Linked DNA regions of Homo sapiens: regions 2 and 3 are each linked to region 1. Evidence: fine-mapped expression QTL. A gene starts in region 1. Each other region holds a variant in brackets. All regions are shown on one strand. Distances are from middle to middle. Region 1 holds the start of DOCK4 (dedicator of cytokinesis 4). Region 2 overlaps DOCK4 (dedicator of cytokinesis 4). Region 3 overlaps DOCK4 (dedicator of cytokinesis 4).

The links. PIP is the estimated chance that this variant, and not a neighbour inherited with it, causes the effect. A credible set is the group of variants that fine-mapping cannot tell apart.
Region 2: its variant is the best candidate, but not a certain one, in a credible set for the expression of DOCK4 in cerebellar hemisphere (GTEx, PIP 0.90).
Region 3: its variant is the best candidate, but not a certain one, in a credible set for the expression of DOCK4 in testis (GTEx, PIP 0.83).

The regions. Positions count from the first base shown.
Region 1 is chr7:112,203,462-112,209,902 of GRCh38, reverse strand. It overlaps DOCK4 (dedicator of cytokinesis 4), which reads left to right and starts at 3,504. Exons shown (of 53, transcript NM_001363540.2): 1 at 3,504-3,801. The coding sequence starts at 3,765. It overlaps ZNF277 (zinc finger protein 277), which reads right to left and starts at 3,208. Exons shown (of 12, transcript NM_021994.3): 1 at 3,096-3,208. The coding sequence starts at 3,186. RefSeq lists an enhancer at 2,993-3,112 and a silencer at 3,283-3,632.
Region 2 is chr7:112,141,930-112,148,370 of GRCh38, reverse strand. All of the region lies in intron 1 of DOCK4 (dedicator of cytokinesis 4), which reads left to right. Among named protein-coding and RNA genes, the nearest start is that of DOCK4, 61 kb to the left of the region's middle. The variant G/A (reference allele first, on the strand shown) is at 3,831.
Region 3 is chr7:111,992,704-111,999,144 of GRCh38, reverse strand. It overlaps DOCK4 (dedicator of cytokinesis 4), which reads left to right. Exons shown (of 53, transcript NM_001363540.2): 4 at 642-697; 5 at 4,914-5,010. Among named protein-coding and RNA genes, the nearest start is that of DOCK4-AS1, 190 kb to the right of the region's middle. The variant C/T (reference allele first, on the strand shown) is at 3,956.

The sequences.
Region 1 (6,441 bases):
TTCTGTCCTTGCGATAGTTTGCTCACAATGATGGTTTTCAGCTTCATCCATGTCCCTACAAAGGACATGAACTCATCCAAAAAGGTGTATGATTTTTACAGGGAAAGACATACTTGATAACCTAAATGACTGCCTAACAAAAAATATACTTTTAATATAAATATTTACACCTAAAATTTATATCACACCTTGTTGGCTTTGAAAAGATTTTGGAAAAAGTAACAGAATGATACATAGGTTATTAAGCAGAATTTTTAATGACAACTTTATCTTATAAAAATGACATAAAAAATCAACCATTAATTTCTCCTGTTGACTGCTACAAGTCAATGAGAATACTGGGTATTTCTCACCGAGGGTGAGAAATTTTTTTATGTTATAGATACCGCAAATTCACTACTACTCAACACTTTTATTGAAAACAAACTGGAATCAAAAACTAAGCTTTCTATCAGTTACTTAATTCAATCTACTAGTCATTGAAACATTGGTCCTGGATTATTTCCTCAAAGTTTGTGACAATATGGGGGAAAGAACACTCATATACTACAGGTGGCAATGTATGCTGAATATATTTTAAGAGGAAAGTCTGGCATCTGTCAAAATTTTAAACTTGCATAACCTTTGATCCAGCAATTTTCTCCCAAAATATACAACCAGTGGGCAAGAATATATGTACATAAAGTTGTTCATTGCAACATTACTGAAAAACTAAAGTCACACTATATGTTCATTTATAAGGGAATGGATAAAGAATGGCACAATCATATTTTGGAATATGATGGGCACAGTCCTTAAAAAAAAAGGAAACAAATGTACTGACGTGGAAGGGTTTCTATGATAGACTGCTGAAAGAAAAAAGAAGGTTGCAGATCTTTCAGTTTATATAGATTTATCCCTTTTTATTATAAAAATCAAATCATAGGCCGGGCGCGGTGGCTTACGCCTGTAATCCCAGCACTTTGGGAGGCCGAGACGGGCGGATCACGAGGTCAGCAGATCGAGACCTCCTGGCTAACACGGTGAAACCCCGTCTCTACTAAAAATACAAAAAACTAGCCGGGCTTGTTGGCTGGCGCCTGTAGTCCCAGTTACTCGGGAGGCTGAGGCAGGAGAATGGCGTGAACCTGGGAGGCGGAGCTTGCAGTGAGCCGAGATCGCGCCACTGCACTCCAGCCTGGTTGACAAAGCGAGACTCCGTCTCAAAAAAAAAAAAAAAAAAAAAAAATCAAATCATACAGACGTGTGTCATATAAGAATATGGTGGTTTAACAGAATACGGATTGTAGGATTAAAAAAAAAAAAAGAAGAAGAAGAATATGTTGGAAAGAATATGTACCAAACTCTTATCACTTAATACTCGGGGAGTGGTGCTGTGAGGTGAGGGAATTTTCATTTTTTTTACTTCATACACTTCTGAATGGTTTGAAGTGCTTTTAAAAACTTTTAAACTTGTAAAATTTAAAAATAAATATTTTTAAATATTTTACATTTTTGAAAGGCATATCCTTTTTTTTTGTTTTGTTTTTGATACAGAGTCTTGCTCTGCCTCCCAGGCTGGAGTGCAGTGGTGGATCATGGCTCACCACAACCTCCGCCTCCCGGGCTCAAGGGATTCTCCTGCCTCGGCCTCCCGAGTAGCTGGGACTACAGGCATCCGCCACCACGCCCGGCTAATTTTTGTATTTTTAGTAGAGACGGGGTTTCACCATATTGGCCAGGCTGGTCTCGAACTCCTGACCTTGTGATCCACTCGCCTCGGCCTCCCAAAGTGCTGGTATTACAGGGGTGAGCCACCGTGCCCGGCCATTTTTTAAAATAAGTTAGACTGTGAGATAAATTCACCAGTTTAGATCTTAAACTGGTAGCCCTCTGGAACTTTGAAAATCTAGGAAACCGTAATAGTCTGTTACCATCAGATAGCCCAATATATAACCAACCCAAAAATAAACCATTAGGGTGTTAAATTCAATATTTAACTCAGGAGACTACCAAAGATTTGTTTGGTAGAGGTACTAAAATAATTTCAGAGTAGGGAGTTCCACTGTTGGGAAGTGGGAAAAAACTGCACTTCAACTCTGTGCCGCTGAGGTAAATACTTAAGATGATATCAATTTAACTGTGAAAGCAAAAACAAATAAATCGAAAAACAAAGTCGCAACAGTCTGAGAACTATATTTAAGCCCCAAACCATGTTCATCAGAAAAAGACAACTTGTGCTAAATTACACATCAAGACAAAAATGGGGTGGGGGGAATGGGGGAGGGATAGACTAAAGGTAAAAGAGTCCTAAACACAATCCACCTGCAGCTTTCAAAATTTGGTTTTTTATTCCTACAGTGGATCAGAGGACAACCTGAAAGTCAGGTACAGCCAAAGTTGTGATGGTTTTCAAAACTCTTTTCAAATGTTCTTTGAAGCCACGAGTGCAAATTATCTATCACTTTCCTTTTCTTTCTCTAAGGACCCAGAGACTGGGAAGATCTCTCAGGCTCCACATACAAATCTGAAGAACACCCAGAGCAGTTAACCATCTACAGGGAGGTTGTGAGATACACACACTTTCCCTTCAGAGGTCACCTCAGCCACAAACTGGGCAAATCTGTAGAGTGGAGAGCAGTGACCACCAGTCTGCGACTGGAAATACTCCGGAAGCTAAATAAAACACACCTGCGAGGTCAAACCAAGCAAACCAAGGCAGTGTACTGGTGAGGAGAAAGAGCTGCTAATCCCAAAATTATAAACACACGCGCGCGAACCAGATCTGAACCAAACCCACTCAGCAGCTAGCTCAAAGCTGGGAGCTCCAAACCAGAAGACAAACGCTCAGGGAGCTTCCCCGGCGGAGGGGAAGGCCATTCCATGGCATTTTCTCCGCCATCCCATGGCATTTTCTCCGCCATCCCCGGGCAGCCCCAACCAAGTAGCCGCCACCGGCTCCAACCCATCCCGCTGGGCCACCACCCGTGGGGCCCAGTCGAACCCAGGTGGCCCCAGAGCTGAAGGGCTCCTAGGGTCAGACCAGAGGTCCGTTGCACACCCGGTCATAGAGAAAGGAAGACACATCAGCCGCGCCTCCGGGGCACCGTACTCACCCCCATAACCTACACCCCCGACTGTGCTGCAGCTCCCATCACGGTCTTCCTGCATTCGGGCGACAGCCCCCTGGGTCTTGGAAGCAGCCATTACCCGGCAGAAAAGAAAAGGGAGGGCCGCAGGGCGGGTCGGAGGCGGGGTGGCACCAGTAGAAACGCTACTGGAGGCGAACTCCCCGTCGACGTAATGTTTTCTCCACACCTACGCCGCGCTCTGGACCAATAGGACGCAATCAGTAAAACTGAATCCCCGCCCCGAACCACATTTGCCGCGCCCACTTCCGGGATGGGGAGGCCAAGAACTACAATTCCCAGCGTGCTGCGGGGCCCTGGGACGGGAGGGCTGGACTAGGCGCTGGCGGGCGGGGGTGCGCCGGAGAGTGCCCCGGCGTGTTCGCTTAGTTCAGTGAATCAGAACAATGACTGCGCCGCCGGGTACCCGGGAGCGCGTCGGAGGACTGTGAGCAGCCGCCGCCGGGAGAGCTGCGGGCGGCGCAGTGTCAACGCTGGGCTCGGGAGCCTCCAGCGCAGATCCTGCCCAGCGCCCGCAGCCCGCGCGAAGCCGCTGGGCTCCGGCACTGCAGCGCTGCTCGGGGACTGTGCATTGTTGTGAGCCGGAGAAGGGGCGCGGGGATTACAAAGCCTGAAGACCCCGGAGCCCCTTTAGCCATGTGGATACCTACGGAGCACGAGAAATACGGCGTGGGTGAGTCTCCGCGGGGCGAACTTTTATTCTGCTCTGGCCCGAGCGAGTGCGCATTTCTCGTCCTTGCCCCCGCGCCCCTCTCGCTCCGCCCGGTTGAAAATGCCTAATCCTGGCATCGCGCAGCTGGTACGGGGCTTTGCCGAGCCAGCTCCAGGCAGAGGGCTGCGCACCAGGCTCTCGCCCCGCACCGCCTGCTCGGCGCGCCCCGCACTGGTTCCCGAAGCGCCGGGACAGCTTGGGGGAGCGCGCGGCCGGCCCGCTAGCTTCGGGCTCTGCCTGCGGAGTTTGGAGTGGCGACTGGGCGTGTGTGTGTGTGTGTGTGTGTGTGTCAAGTTGGAAGAGGAGGCGAATGGGGTTTCTCTCCTTCCTTACCCTTCTTCCCCAAAGCGACAGGGAGCTGCAACGGTTCCTCTGGGTGGAGAGGGAGACAACAACACTCGGGCAGAGAGAACACCCCCAAAACAGTAGGGAGGCGCAAACCCTTCCCTCTGGCTCGGATCGACATTCCCGGAGTGTGGAATGTGGCAGGGTCCTGGAGAGAGCCGCTCTGACAAGCTGAGCCCTCTCTGACCCTCCTCCCTCTCTGCGATCCCGGATTTATGGGGTGTGTATGTTGCGGGGCGGGGGCATTGGTAAATTTCAACATCTGCGCCGCTCGGTTCTTTGGTCTTTGGAGAAGAACGGGTATTTCAGCAGTGTTTTTACTTCTGGCCACCCTCTCGACCCCGGGTGAGCGCAGTGGGGGCGGTGTGGCGGTACAGGGCTGCTGAGTGATAAATGGGGAGGGGGATCGGAAAGCCTGGTTCTTGGGGGCAGGGAGATAGCTTTTAGGAAAGCATACCCTGACACTGGCGTTCGGAGAAAAAGGAACAGGATAGCTCTCGCTGTTCTGTGTAAAGGTGAACAACAAAGGACATTAATGTTGACTGATGAATACAGGAGTCTCCCTTCCTTTTCCTCCTCCCATTTCAGGCGGGTTACAGTTCCCGTTTTTGTTGTTTGATTTCAGCTGGGTCGCCCCTTGACAGTTACTCCTTTTAGGGTTGAGACTATTAAGAAGCCAGGCTCTCCGACAAGGCTGCAGCCGGCCAAATGCAATTATAACCTCCCAGAAGGTCTAACAGAAAGCATTATGGATTTTACTAACACTCTTTATTTCCTATAATGCCCTGTTCTGCCGACTGGTGTACTTTGTGTGTGTGTGTGTGTGTGTGTGTGTTTTAAAATTGAGGACAGGTCTAGTGATTTAGGTGATGTGTAGATATCTGCTTATGTTCTAAATTCATTTTCCTGCAATTTAAAACATCTGGAAAGCCTTCCCAGGGAGTCGTAGTCCGAGGGGATTTTTGTTTTTTTTTTTCCCAACTTTGCCTGGGGATAGGACTTTGGGGTCCATTGAAAGGACTGTAGGATTCAACAAAATCATTCCCACATTTCACGTTAGCTTCCATTCTGGATTGTGACTAATTACCAAGACAATAGTTTGACCTGAACCCACCTTTGGGAAAGGTTTCCAGCTTTCCCTCCTTCAAAGTGTCAGAGGAGTCTTTGCCAGCCTCTTTACTGGCAAGGAGTAGATGTTAGTAGTTGTTATTTTCGTTCTCCTCACTCTTCTCTTTTTTGGGAGGTAGATTAACCCTTGCTAGGGAAAAAGATAGTCCCTTTGCTGGACTGGTGAGGGACCCGAGGGCATCGCCTCCTAAGCGGCTTTAACACTCAGTGCAGGAAGCTCAGATCCATCCAGGCAAAACTGTCCTGCTTGGAGTCGATCCCAGATGTTGCTTTCTTCCAAGTGTTAAATTATACAGATTATGGATGGGATTTATTTTCTTGATTTCTTCATGTGCCAGGTCACAGCTGGGGTGCTGGTATCGATTAGTTCCTCTCTTGCCTTTCTTTACAAGCGGTGGGCAGAGGCTTAAAAACCACTCTGGGATTTCCTGGAATGGCAAACCGGATATTATCAGTCAAATGTTTTGGGCTGCAGCAGACACCTCGGTTTTGGGTGGTTGTGATTTGATTGCAGAGTAGGGGAGGCAGAAGGGTGTGCTCACAATTGAGAAAAAGAGGTTGAATGAGATGAAGGACGAGAGCAGAGAGAGGGTCTTTTGCCCCAAATTACTGCTGTTGTTCTCAATATCACATGTGCCAGAATGTTAATTAACCTTTATTATTAATTTTTGAGCATTTGGATTGTGGAATGCTTAGCTGTTTTTTAGAATCCATCTGTTAGGCGTGTGTGTGTGTGTGTGTGTGTGTGTGTGTGTGTGTGTGTAGTGAAATTTTTGCTAGGATACTTATGTGTGGACTTTATTTTTCACCATGGAGGGCACTGTTTATAGCTGCTTATATTGCAAGTTGTTTGTTTTTTCTTTTAACCTTGGTTAATGTTTGTGTTTTTCTCATGTAGTTCTTACAGATGTTAAAGAAAAGATCTTATGGGCACAGATCTTTGTTACCAAGTGTAGTGGTAATTTAGTTTCTTCATTCTTTGAAATAAATCAGTCTTTGTAACAGAATATGTGACGTTTTAGTATAAATTATATATTTCTGCAAAGGTACTTTTTATATACCCTCATTTATGTATGAGATAATTATGCTTTTATATACTTATGATTAAATTTTAAGCAGCATACTGTA
Region 2 (6,441 bases), 62 kb after region 1:
TTCACCAGCTTTCCAAAGGGGGTTGGTTCTATGTTAGTCCTGGCTCTAAGCCATTCTTCTGACATCTCCCCCTGTCCCTCTGCCAGCACTCTGGAGAGCTGAGATGTGGCTTTGAAAGGCCCAGCATCAATCACTGGAATCCCTATTATAATCTTGACTCCAGCAATGAAGATTCTGTGGCCATTTTTGTCAGTGCTTTATATGTCTTAAAGGAGGAGGCTTTCTTTAGCTTTTCTGTCTTTCCAGGACAATGCCGTCTACACAGACTTCCAATGGAAGATGTTGATTCAGCGACAATTTACTAGAAAGCTGGATGCTGTGAAAGCAAGACACAGAAAGCAGAGAACATCAAGCAGTGGGAGTGTGGAGGAGAGGGAGAGAGCATGTGTGCTTGAGCAGAGGGGTGATAGGAGGCCTGAGGGGAGAGCTGGTGGAGGCTGTGAAATGAGATGGGGAAGTAGGGAGTTGGGTGGAATAATGAGGAGATGGAGAAGTAATTAAATTCAAGCTTTCAAGCCTCCTCCTGGTGGTGGCTTCTCTTTATCAAAAAAAAAAAAAAAAAAAAAAAAAAAAAATCTACGTTTGCTCCTGGGAATTGTTCCTGTGTAGTTAAGGATGGATTCTTCACTCGTGTCTTCAATTACTTGAATTCAGTACGGAGGTTTTGTGACTCAGAGCTTACCTCTCAGATAACCGCCTTATTTTTGTGATGGTTGTGGCCAGGTCTTCTGATGCAGGATTTCTAGATTTTATACTGAACACAGGAAAGTGGGCAAACTTTTCAATTATAGGAAATACCTTTGAGGGTATTTTGAGGTATTGGGCAAAGGCTGAAAACAATTTCAAAATAAAATATTTTTAGGCAAAATATCTGTTAACTGTAAGAATGTTGACTCTGTTAAGCCCAAAGGGAAATGTTACAGGTCAGGTGGATCCAGGACAGAGCTAAAGGTGGTAGACATGCACTGATATAAATGTCTGTGCTTAAAATGTGGTTCTAAGAGACTAAAAAATTGTCTATTCTGGTACTAGTAGAACCTAGGTTTGGATCTCCTTGAAAACGCCCAAAACATATTTTACTTGCCATTTAGAAAAGATAGTTTTAGTGACTAATTAGACTTACGTGGGTTGTAGTCTCTAAAAACCCAATAATTTACTGTTCACCTGTGTATATTTCTAATGACAATGCTGAATTCAGATTGAAGGTAATCTAAATTAGGTACAATACAATATCTATAAACATTATTATATAAGAACTGTATTACCATCAAATAATTTTAATATCTGGATTAATATAACAAAGTGTTCCCTAGTATATATTACTAGGAGTCCTGCTTTAAAAAATAAATACATGATAGTTATATATCATTTGTAGGTAGATGTATTTATAAGGTGCTTTGGGGCTTTTAAGAAAGTGTCTTCTCTTAAATATTTAAAACATTTTTATTTGCATTACTGGTTTCCCTAGCATATCCTTTCTTTAGAGAAAATATAATCAAATTTTGGATACTGTTACACTCGTCTAAATTATTACAAATTCTTAATTTCAAACTTAATGAAGAAATTAGATGGGATGAAGAGATATCGAAGCCTCCTAGATCTCTGTAAAATGTTCTTCCTCTGCCAAAGTACTTTTTTGAGACAAGGTCTTACACTGTTGCCCAGGCAAAAGTGCAGTGGTGCCATCAGGGCTCACTGCATCCTTAACCTCCCCAGACTCAGGTGATCCTCCTGCCTCAGCCTCCTGAGTAGCTGGGACTATAGGTGCACGCCACCACACCCAGCTAATTTTTATAGTTTTTGTAGAGATGAGGTTTCGCCACATTGCCTAGGCTGGTCTCAAACTCCTGACCTCAAAGGATCTGCCTGCCTCAGCCTCCCAAAATGCTGGGATTACAGGCATGAGCCACTGCACCTGGCTTCAAAGTTCTTTCAGTTATACTGGCAACAAAGCAGCTTTTGGGGCTTTGAAATTCCTCTATTTTATTTAACACTTCTGAAATCACAGTGACCAGGAAGGAGGGGATCAAGTTTTGCCAACTTGTTAAAGAAAGCCTTGGAAAGCCTCTTCTAGGATGACCATGCTGTGGGGACTTCTGTAGCTTTTGCTTGGAGACTTTGAAACTCCTCCCATGCCAACCTTAGAAAAAGGCTGATTCGATGAAGTCTTTCTGGCAAAGCATTTAAGACCCAGCCACTTTTCAAAGGTGAGTTCCTCTGTAAAGTCACCTCAGGTTCTTGCTACAAAAACCAATCTTTGTGCTAAGTGTTTGATGAATACTGCCATGTTGTGATTTTAGATGTTGGATCCTTGGCTTCGTTATGTGGACTTCTGGCTTTGGGAGGTATTTTATCCTGTTAGAATATTATCTCTTCCAGTGTATTTCTCTCATTTTCTATATCACAAACAAACATATAAGCACATTCTAATATAGTACGCAGTTTAAGCGAAGTTAGATGATATTGAATAATAGATTGTTATAAATATATTTTTACATACTTGCTCTCACACCCTCCTTGACCCACCCAGTGCCCCATTTTTTTTTTTCTTCCAAGTAACTAAGTTCTGTGACTTGGATGCTGTGACTTGGACTTTAGAGGTGAAGTCAGATGACAAAAGATTTCCATGCAAATCATGTTTCCAGAATCATCCCTCATGTGCATGTATGTCTAGTGGAATGCAAGGCTTACTAGAGGGAGGTTGAAATTTGGTGTGCGTTAAAGGAAATATAAAAATCCTGCTTAATGATCCTGTTAGGTTTGTATACAGATTAACTGTTATTACACAAGAAATGGTATGTCCGTTTGGAATTTCTCATCCTCTGAATAGCCAGCTTTAGCACTGTAAACTGGGAAGAATTCTGTTGTATCTCTGAATATATAATATTGCATTACTGCGAGCCCCGCGGCCCTTTTCCCAAACAACATATGCCTGCATGTGCCTCAGTTTTATGTGAGCCAAACCAATCTTAGGCCTAGCATATGGGAGTTTATTAGTATGTGTATGTTCCTATGTTGTTTAAGAGAGATTTTAGGGTCTGGAGAACTGAGACGTGGCAAGTTACAACAAAGCTTTGCTTAGGGATGTGGTTCATGGATCTCAGCCTAAGTCTGAACACTTATGCCTATAAAATATCCTCATTCCAGTTCTTGAGGCAAATTGTCTTTGATTCACATTTGCTTTTTCTTTCTGTGGTGCTTGCCTGATGCTTGCTAACCTCTCTAGCACCTGCTGCCTTTATACCTCCCTAAGGTGTCCGGTCCCTGCCTTGGAACCACCTGCAACTTTCCTCCTTTTTACAACATATTAATAGATATCGTTTCATCATATAGGGAGTGCTCTTACAGAAGCACCGGAAAATTTCTGCATTTATAGCTTAAGTGTAGTACTTTAAAAAATTCTAACAAGCAAGAGTGTTTCATAACCCAGTGGAACAAAAATTCCTAATGATGAAATCCAGGCATATTCTGGGATGAGATTCCTCTTATCACACCTCTCTGCTCGCTTTGCGTCAGTAGTCCTGGTAGGACTGATGTTCCCAAGCATCCCAAGGAGAGTGTGCATACCACAGTGTGCTTTAGAGATGTGGTATTTTGGTGTGCAGAGTGTAGTTACAGGATACCTCTGATAGAAAGATGTTTGCAAAAACTACTAGGATATTTTCTCAGCTGTGCCAGAAATCTGGGTAAATGAGTGTTAGATTATTAGCTTTGGCATTGAGGTGCTGACCTGCAAAGCTCTGTTGCCACTGCCCTGGGTCCTTGATGACCTGGCATCCTGGAGATACCCTGGTCCTCCTAGATCTGACCTAGGTTGCAGCTGTGAGCTG[G/A]ATGCCTAGTGCCATCTGCCTGGGCAAATGTAGGAAATGCCAAGTGGGCTGGCAATTTTTTGTGTGGCCTTTGGATCCTCACTCAGCCATATGGTGCTAAAATGTCAAACTGTTCCCGAGTATGGGCCATGATGGAGAAGGCTAGATAGAGAACACACACTTCAGATAAAGAAGCTGCTGAGTCTGTTTATTCCCCAGCCACTGGCTTATCACTTTGCTACTTTAACCAACATTTACTGAATAGTGCTTAGTTCATAGTGGACTACTTATATTGTGAGAGGTGCCAAAAAAAGAAAATAAAATACTGAGATGGTTCTTACTGGCAAGGATTATGTCTCTTGTGTCCATGTGTCTTGTATGTAATACTGTCACTAGAGGAAGGTGAAATGAAGGGATTCTTCCAGTAGAATTTAATGGGAGGAAAGTATCTTAGAAACTGAAGAATGCCAAGGAAACTGAGTCCCCCAAAAGATTGTAGCATCCCTAAATTGTGATTGCAGAGATATTACCAAGCCCCATACTCTTTCCACTTCAGCTTCTTTCTGCTATATTCTGGCAGTCACACTTGTTGATGGATTGACATAATGCCTTGAAAAGTTTACAATCCGTGTAGGAAGAGAAAATGTAACAAGAACTTACAGATGATCCGAATCAAAACATCTGCAAGTGCTGTGATTGAGACCAAAGGGAATGTGTAAGTCTAAAGGGAAAGAGGAGGAGATGAATGATGTGGTTCAGATGAGGTTAGCCCTGGCAGGCTTCCTAGAGGAGATGGCTGGGGTTGGGTTTGGCCCATGTAGCTCTTCTTAGTCCCACTCTCAGGAGACTTTATATAAACACATTTTTCTCCTGGCACAGGGCATCTGACTGGTTGGAAAGAACAGGAAGACAAAGAATAGATGCTTGAATTCCAAGAGGCCCTCCCATTCCTTATAGTTGGAGAGCCGCGAACTTTTAGATGTGCCCCCAAATGCATAGAATTAAACAAATATATCAGATACAATTTAAACCTAGGTAAAAGACAAGTCATTTCATGTATTTGATAGAGAGTTGTAGCTTGAGAGACTTTTTCACTAATGGAGCTTTGTTGCCTTTTCAATTTAAATGACGTCTGCTTGTCTTGGTTTATAAATATTCAAAGAATTGCTTTGGTTTTAGTTAATCATACTTGACCGTATATAAGCTCAGCTATTTGAGGCATTTTAAACAACCAGTTTCATATGGCAGTTTTGTGGCATTTCTGGGATGGAGGGCCCTGGAGCTAGCCTTTTCCTGTTTCCACTGCTGTGGAGGTCTCGTCTGTGTCTAGGATTCAGCCCAAGGCATTGTGATCCTATGGTGAATTGCTTGGAGTGGCCCAGAGGAGATGTTCTTTTCCTTTTTTTTTTAACCTTTTGGTTTTGAACTAATTTTAGAATTACAGAAAAGTTGCAAAAATCATAGAAAGAGTCCCTTACCTAACTCACCCACTTCCCCCAGTGTAAGCATTTTACATAATTATAATAAAATTATTTTAGTCACCCCCACTTATCCACCCTTAGAGAAAGCCTCACACTTATTCATAAAAAGACACATGTACAAAGTTCTTTGTTTCCAGGTACAACCTAATGTCTAGTAAAAACAAATAGATAAATATCCTGTGCTATGCAATAGTAAAAATAAATGTCAAATGCATTAAAGGAAACAAGCAAGTTGCAGAAGGGTATATGCCTTATGTTTCCACCTACTTCAGGTTTAAAAGCATGCAAAGCAATACTAGATACTATGTATGCATGTGAAGTAGCAGTGTAAAAACTTGCACATGTATGTGAATGATATACACAAAATTCAGGATCCTGTTTAGTTCTGTAGTGGTAAAGAATACATGTGAGCTTTCTATTGTAACATTTAATTTTAAAAAATGAGTGGTAGGCACTCTGGGGATCATTATATTATTTTCTAAACCTATTCAAGGACTAAAATGTTTAATTTAAAAAATAGTAAATAATACTAATACAAAAGCCCAGCAAGGCCATTCATTAGAAATGCATTAGTGATGAGCTTTCCTGAGACAGTGTTGTACCTGCTGAGTTGAAAGGCAAAGGAGTAAGGCTTCAGTTGAATTCTTGGCTCTTCTGCATGGGTTAGACAGTCAACATGTCTTGAGTTTCCTGGGTCACATTTTCTCTACCTGTAAAATTTCCATGACTGCCTTACAAGCCTAACATACAATAGTGAAAATTCAGAGCTAAAACTCTTCAATAATGATCCTAGAAAAGGTGTGCAATGTTGTCTGTGGCCCTATACTCTGCCAGGTTTGACATCCCACCAGCCCCACTTTCTAGCTATGTGACCTTGCCTGAGTTATTTTTTCTCTCTATGCCACAGTTTCTTCATCTGCAAAAGGGGCTTAATAATAGTACCTACCTCACAGGGACATTGTGAGGACCACATGAGTTAATGCATGTAGAACACATAGAACCTGTTTCTCCCTCTCCCATCTGGCTCCTAGACTCAGTGTATTTGCTCTTCATAGAGTTAAATTACTAGGTGCCTTAAATTTGAATTAGTTGCAAGTAGTTAAGAATTGCAATGAGTGGGGGGATGTTACATTTTAAAACTGTGGATTTCT
Region 3 (6,441 bases), 210 kb after region 1:
TCTTTCAATTTCCCATTTAGAACAAAGAAACAATTTCCTTGCCTTGTCATTTCCTACAATAAAAAGCTTCAAGCTAACATGGCTTCTTTTGTTTGATTTCTGTTCCATCAGAATGGCAGCATGGTGATTAACTGTTGCTGAGTTGTCATCAAAAATCTTCCATAACACAGAATACACATATTATCTCTAAATTTGCAGTGATATTTTTTGTATGTATATTTTCAAGAGAAATATGAATGTTTTGGGGAGAAAAAAAGGAACTACCATCAAAACGAAGAACCTTTCAAAACTATGCAATACATATTTTGTAAACTCTTATTCAGTATAACATGGTTTTTATATAGAATTCCTGAAATTTTCTTATTTTCTGTTTAATAAACATTATGTTTTCTGAGTAAGATTTAATTTTTTTGATCATATTTGTTTAGAATGTCTCTAAATTTTTAAAGTAGTTAATGGTAGAAAATGAAAGGATGGATCTTAAGCCACAGTAGATTTCATCCAAGAGAATGTGGTAGAGATGTTGCTTTTCCCTATTCCTGATGTTGTCATGGTTGTATGGCTGTGTTTTATACAAATGACTTGTGAAACCAACCCTGCCTTAACAGCCGGCATCGTAACCTTCATGTTTTCTTTTCCAGGGTATATTTCCTTCCAGCTACGTTCACTTGAAAAATGCCTGTGTAAAGAACAAAGGGTAAGAAATGAGTTTTATTAGTAGTTGGAGGATTTTCACAGAGCCTTTGCTTCTTTTGGAATTTGAAAGGCATAGTAATTGTCTTGAAAAATGAACTGTAGAAGATCATACCATTGTCTGTGTTCTTTGTTAAAGATATATTGCATTAAGACCGTTGGTGGAGAAAATTAAAGAACCCCATCTGTGTGTGCTGGACAAGAGGATCTGAGAGACTGGAGGTCTCTCAGTGTCCACAAATCAGGGAATCAGCCTATGCTTGAGCAGAAGGAGTTGGTTCTTTTTGGTTTCTTGCTACTTAGGGAAGCATGTCAGTCAGACCCATTAAATGCTGTCATATTATCTCAAACCCCAGGAATTTCCTAGGTTCACCACTGATTCTAAGATGCATAGTGTGTCTTTCTCTAAATGGGCATAATAACATATTCTTGTGTGACCACTTCACAAAGCCATTATTCTATTTTAGAGAATGTCATTTATATGATACTTTGTTTGATTGAGCTCATTGATCACCTAGTATTTCTAATACATTAAAAAAATTTCTAGTCTTATTTCCAAAAGGATTTGAAGTGGCAGTCACTTTAACATAATTCCAATAAGGTACAGCAGGATAAAACAGAAGAACTTGCCTGTGTAAATAGTTAGCATAAGCAGATCATTCATCATAAGGGGCCATGGATTTAGACACAAACATTTGGTGTCAGTGTCACAAGGACTATTCACATGATCATTGCATAATTTTCATCTTAGGACAACAGAATACAGATTCAGCCATAGAAATTATATTTTTTCTCAAATAGTGATAAATAGCAATTTATTATTTGAATTCTTAAAGCATAGTAATGGCATTTTCCAACTTGAGTCTTAAGATAAAAGTTCCAACGAGGCTATTCAAATAATTTCCTCCTCAATAAAGATATGATATTAAATTTCAGTTCAGGGAAACAGCCTATGCATGTGGCTAAGAGTCTATGGTATAAATACTTTGAGAGTTCCCTATATGGGTAAAACTTAAAGAATCTCAGAGACCATTACTCTACATGTCTTATATATGTGAGCTGCTTTAAGCATGTTAGTAGTAGCACTCAGTAATAGTAATTATTGAATAATAGATTAAAAGCATAATTCTAATTCTAATAATTACCACTACTACTACTGATCTTTTAAGAAATGTGTGTCCTTTGGAAGTGTGCAGCTATAATCCACCAGAAGCATCAAGCCAAGTTGTTGGTCCTTTTGAAACTTTCCTACCCAGCTAGATGTGATACCATTCAGCCTCCCTCCAGTAAACCAGAGGATACTTCAGAATACACTCCAGCCATATGCTTACTCTTTGTTCTGATCCTTCTGTGCTAGTGATCTGGGCTTGGCAATGTGAAAACACCATGGGCTACCCCTGTTTCTTAAAGTGTCCTTTTGAGCAAGCCTGTGCAACCAGTCCTCTTTGCTGCCTTTGTCCCAAGCCCAACCCTGACCTCCCTCAACTCTGCAGTGCAAAGGGCATCATATGCTCTGACCAAGGAAGAGAAAAGAGAGAATGCTGTGCTAGCAAAGATGATGTCAAGCATCTCTCCACTTAATCAAAGTCTATCCCTCAAAGTGAGTTGGGGTAGGATATGGTTTTTAAATAAGTACGTCCTTTTTTTAAATCCTGGTTAGTAACTGGTGTATATCTGATCCCCTTCCATGAGCCCCAGGAAGTTTAAATGTGGGTAAAGTACCTAAAAATTTGGTCATGTAAGTTTAAGACTTTCTTATGGGGTCTCCACCTGACACTAGGTATGATGGACATTGTGCAGCAGAAGAACAGAAAAGCCCAACATTAGTTTCTGTAAAAGACTTATTGGAATTGACTCAGACCCTAGGTCTAGGGCTGTTACTGGAAGAAAAACTTTGGCCTGAAAACATTTGAGAGCATGTATTGCCAGGTAATTGCTTTCCCAGAGAGGAACATCTTTGGGGTTTTGGTATTACCTGTCTTATTTTAAGTGGATTTATGGCCCACTAGGATGAAATAATGGAAAAGTCCATCCTAGAATAATTGAACAAAATATAATTTCAGAGGTAACTACTTACGACAGACTATTTGAACACTGATTTTGGGTTTGGAATAATTAATAGAAAACAGTCACCTTGCCTAAAATGGCAATTTTATGCTTAAAAATTTAAATTTTGCTTGGACAACCCCCAATCAACTTCTCACAGACTGAATTGCGTGTATGTTCTTTCTTGTGTCTTCAGATCAATGTAGGACTGTTGGAGGTCAATTAAATTATAGTTTATGGACAGGGAGGCCACTTCTGTATTGTTTAATTCCTACTGAGGTCATGTCACTTTTTAAATGTTAAGTAGTATGTCAGGTTTCCCTGGAAATTCAGTGTTTCCTCCTTGACCTTGTATAGGATCATTTTATAATCTCCATCTCCAAATATTCATCATTTAAATTGCAAACGCTGCTTCAAAAGCAAAATAAATGTACCACCATTTAAAAATGTCATATACAGACTTAATAAAAGGTTCTGTGTCTGTCACAGTTTATATATTACTGTTTACTTTTATTTCTAGTTTAAAATCCCAGTTTTACATTTTCAGCTGTGTTTAAGCTCTAGAAAGAAGGAAAATATTCATAGGGCAAGTATTTTAGCAGCACTGCGAAATGAGGAGATGAAACTCTGTTGGGAAAAAAATCAAGGCAAGATTTTAGTTTCCATATGTCTGACAAGAAGATTTTACAAAAGACAATTATATACACTTTGGACATAACATGAAAAAGGAATCACAGAACAGTTATTAGTCTCATGCTAAGAAGTAATTTCCCCTTGATCATTAGACAACATGGTTCTGTGTCTAATATGTCATTACTTTCTATGTATTAGACGTTTTCTTGAGAAAAATATACTGAAATAAAGAAAATAGTCTCAATCAATATATCAGTAGCATTCTTTGGGAAGCAGTGGTAGTAATAGCCACTAAACCACTTTCACCTGCACATACACACACACACACACACACACACACACACACACACACACACACAAAGAAAGAATTTGAAAAAAGAAACTGGAGATGAAGATTATTATATGCCAAAGGTAGGATACAGAGGACAAATTAAATCTTCTCAGCCAGGCGCGGTGGCTCACACTGGTAATCCCAGCACTTTGGGAGGCTGAGGCAGGCAGATCACAAGGTCAGGATATTGAGACCATCCTGGCTAACACGGTAAAACCCTGTCTCTACTAAAAATACAAAAAATTAGCCGGG[C/T]GTGGTTGCAGGCACCTGTAGTCCCAGCTACTCGGGAGGCCAAGGCAGGAGAATGGCATGAACCTGGGAGGTGGAGCTTGCAGTGAGCCGAGATCGCGCCACTGCACTCCAGCCTGGGCGACAGAGCAAGACTCTGTTCTCAAAAAAAAAAAACACAAAACTTCTCTTTTATTTCCCCCATCTCCTCATGCATATTCTCAACTTCAGGACCACCATACACACCCTACTAGATATTGATATAAATATTTTCCAAGGATAGTTTCTGACTTTTAGAGAAGAAATGAGAAGACTACGTTACTCTAATCAGAAAGAGGAACATTTTGGAACGAATATTCAAATATCGGTGATGTCATAAGCCATAAGTTCTATGCTGTATGATAACATTACTTAGAATACTAATCATTTCTCATGGTCCTAGTTTGCAAATAATAAAAATTAAGTGTTACCGAGATCAAGAGAGTGTTCAATTAGTATCTCAGTGTCTAGTTACTTATAACACTGAGTTAGTTTGGATGCCCACAGCCATCATGTCCTGGTGATTGAATGGTGTTCCTTTTACTCTCTTTGAGTCCTATAGTCATAGCCCTTGGAAGGCAAAAGTCACCTCAGAGTTTATGTAGCCCAGTGACCTCATGTTACAGATGAAGGCTTTTGGCCTTAGGTTAAATGAGTTGCTGCCTAGTCGTGAACTGGTACTGGAGTGCAACCCTTCTGATGCTGTTCCTTCTTCACCACGCTGCTCAAACTTGATCTGGTTGAAGTGGCTGGTTGTTCTGGTATTGTCCTACCACAACCCATGTAGCATTCCTCACATTAACTTATAACCAGATCCTGGTTACTGTCTGTAGAACGAACAATAGCTAGGCAGCTTTCTTTTCTAGTTATCTTTTAGAGTATTTAAAACAAAATTGTTGTCTATGGTATTTACATATATACTTTTTCTTTTTTAATTTCACAGACAATTTGAAATGGTTATTCCCACTGAAGACTCTGTTATCACAGAAATGACATCAACATTAAGAGACTGGGGAACCATGTGGAAACAACTCTATGTGGTTAAGTAGCTTTTTAATGACACGATTTTTCGGGTAAAGAATTGTTTTAAGAAATACATGAACATGAGTAAGCATTAACTAATATAGCACCTTCTGCAAGTCTCCAGGACTCCTTGGGGATATAGATATTAACAAGACAGTCTTGTTACAATCTCTGTGTCCACTGAGCATGGGTTTTGTAAGTTATTTTTCAATACCACAGGAATATAAAAGATTATTTTTCTGGCATCTAACCAAATAGGATGGTTTACATGGACCTATTGTTGAACCTCCTGAATATTTTTAATTTCCAGGGAAAAATAAAATTCAAGACAATTTTGGTGGCTTTGGTATTTTATCAAATTCAAATTCTGTAAGTAATTCAAGTATACTGTAAATGACAGACTTCTTAGCTAGTATCAATGAGAATATTCTAAATATACTAGAGAAAAGAATGTTTCTTGAGGGGAAAAAGGATCTGTGTTTTGCAGATACGTAGTATATATTTATTTACTTACTATAAGTAATCACATTGGGAACTTATGTGGCAAATCCCATGGTAAGTACTCTTTGATGCAGTATCTTCTTTAATCCTTATTACTACTCAAAGAAATAATAATGATGATCACATCCAGCTTACAGATGAGAAAAATAAGGCACAGAGAGTGAAGTACTCACCCCACATCAAGTAATGGGAAAATGGCTGAGCTGGGGTTCTGGTATGAATATGGTGCTGTCACTCTGAACCCCACTGTAACTGTGGAAGTCTGGGGGTGGTGAAATATTAGGGAAGACCCCATGCTATTTCTTCTTTTATTTTTAAAGAAATTTGTAGAACAGCTTAATCATTTGAAGGGATTAATTCAAAATACAAACGTGTGCTTATCCTGACAAAACGATTTAAAACAGCCTGTCGAGGAAAAAATCCAAATTAGTGAGGGACACTGGCAGAATGATAGTGTTTATTGTCTGTTACATCTGAAATGCAATAGGATATTTCACTGAGGCAAGAAAATCTGACAAAGTCACTAGTGAAAACCCTTTGATGTTGGACTTCTCTGATTAAACCCTCCTGTAGCTGGTAGCTTTAGAACTCACTATGAAAATCCACAAGAAACCTTAGGTGAATTGGCGGAGCATAGGTTTTGTAAATAACAAAGTCAAGATAACCGACCTCGAGGGCTCTGTGCTAGGGAAGTGCAAAGAAATGCAGATCTCCTTTTTAAATTTTCTTTTTTTTTTGTAAATGTTGGAAAGAATTCAAAATCCAAGTATTATTTCACTTAAAGTAACATTGGGCATGGCACTAACATGGAAAAAGAAACTATTTGAAATGCTCAAACCACTGCATTCCAAATACCCGATATAAGAGTTATAAAAATAATGACAGTGTGAGTGTTGTCCATTAGCTGAACTAGAACACAAACACTTTTCCTTTTATATAGCTACTAG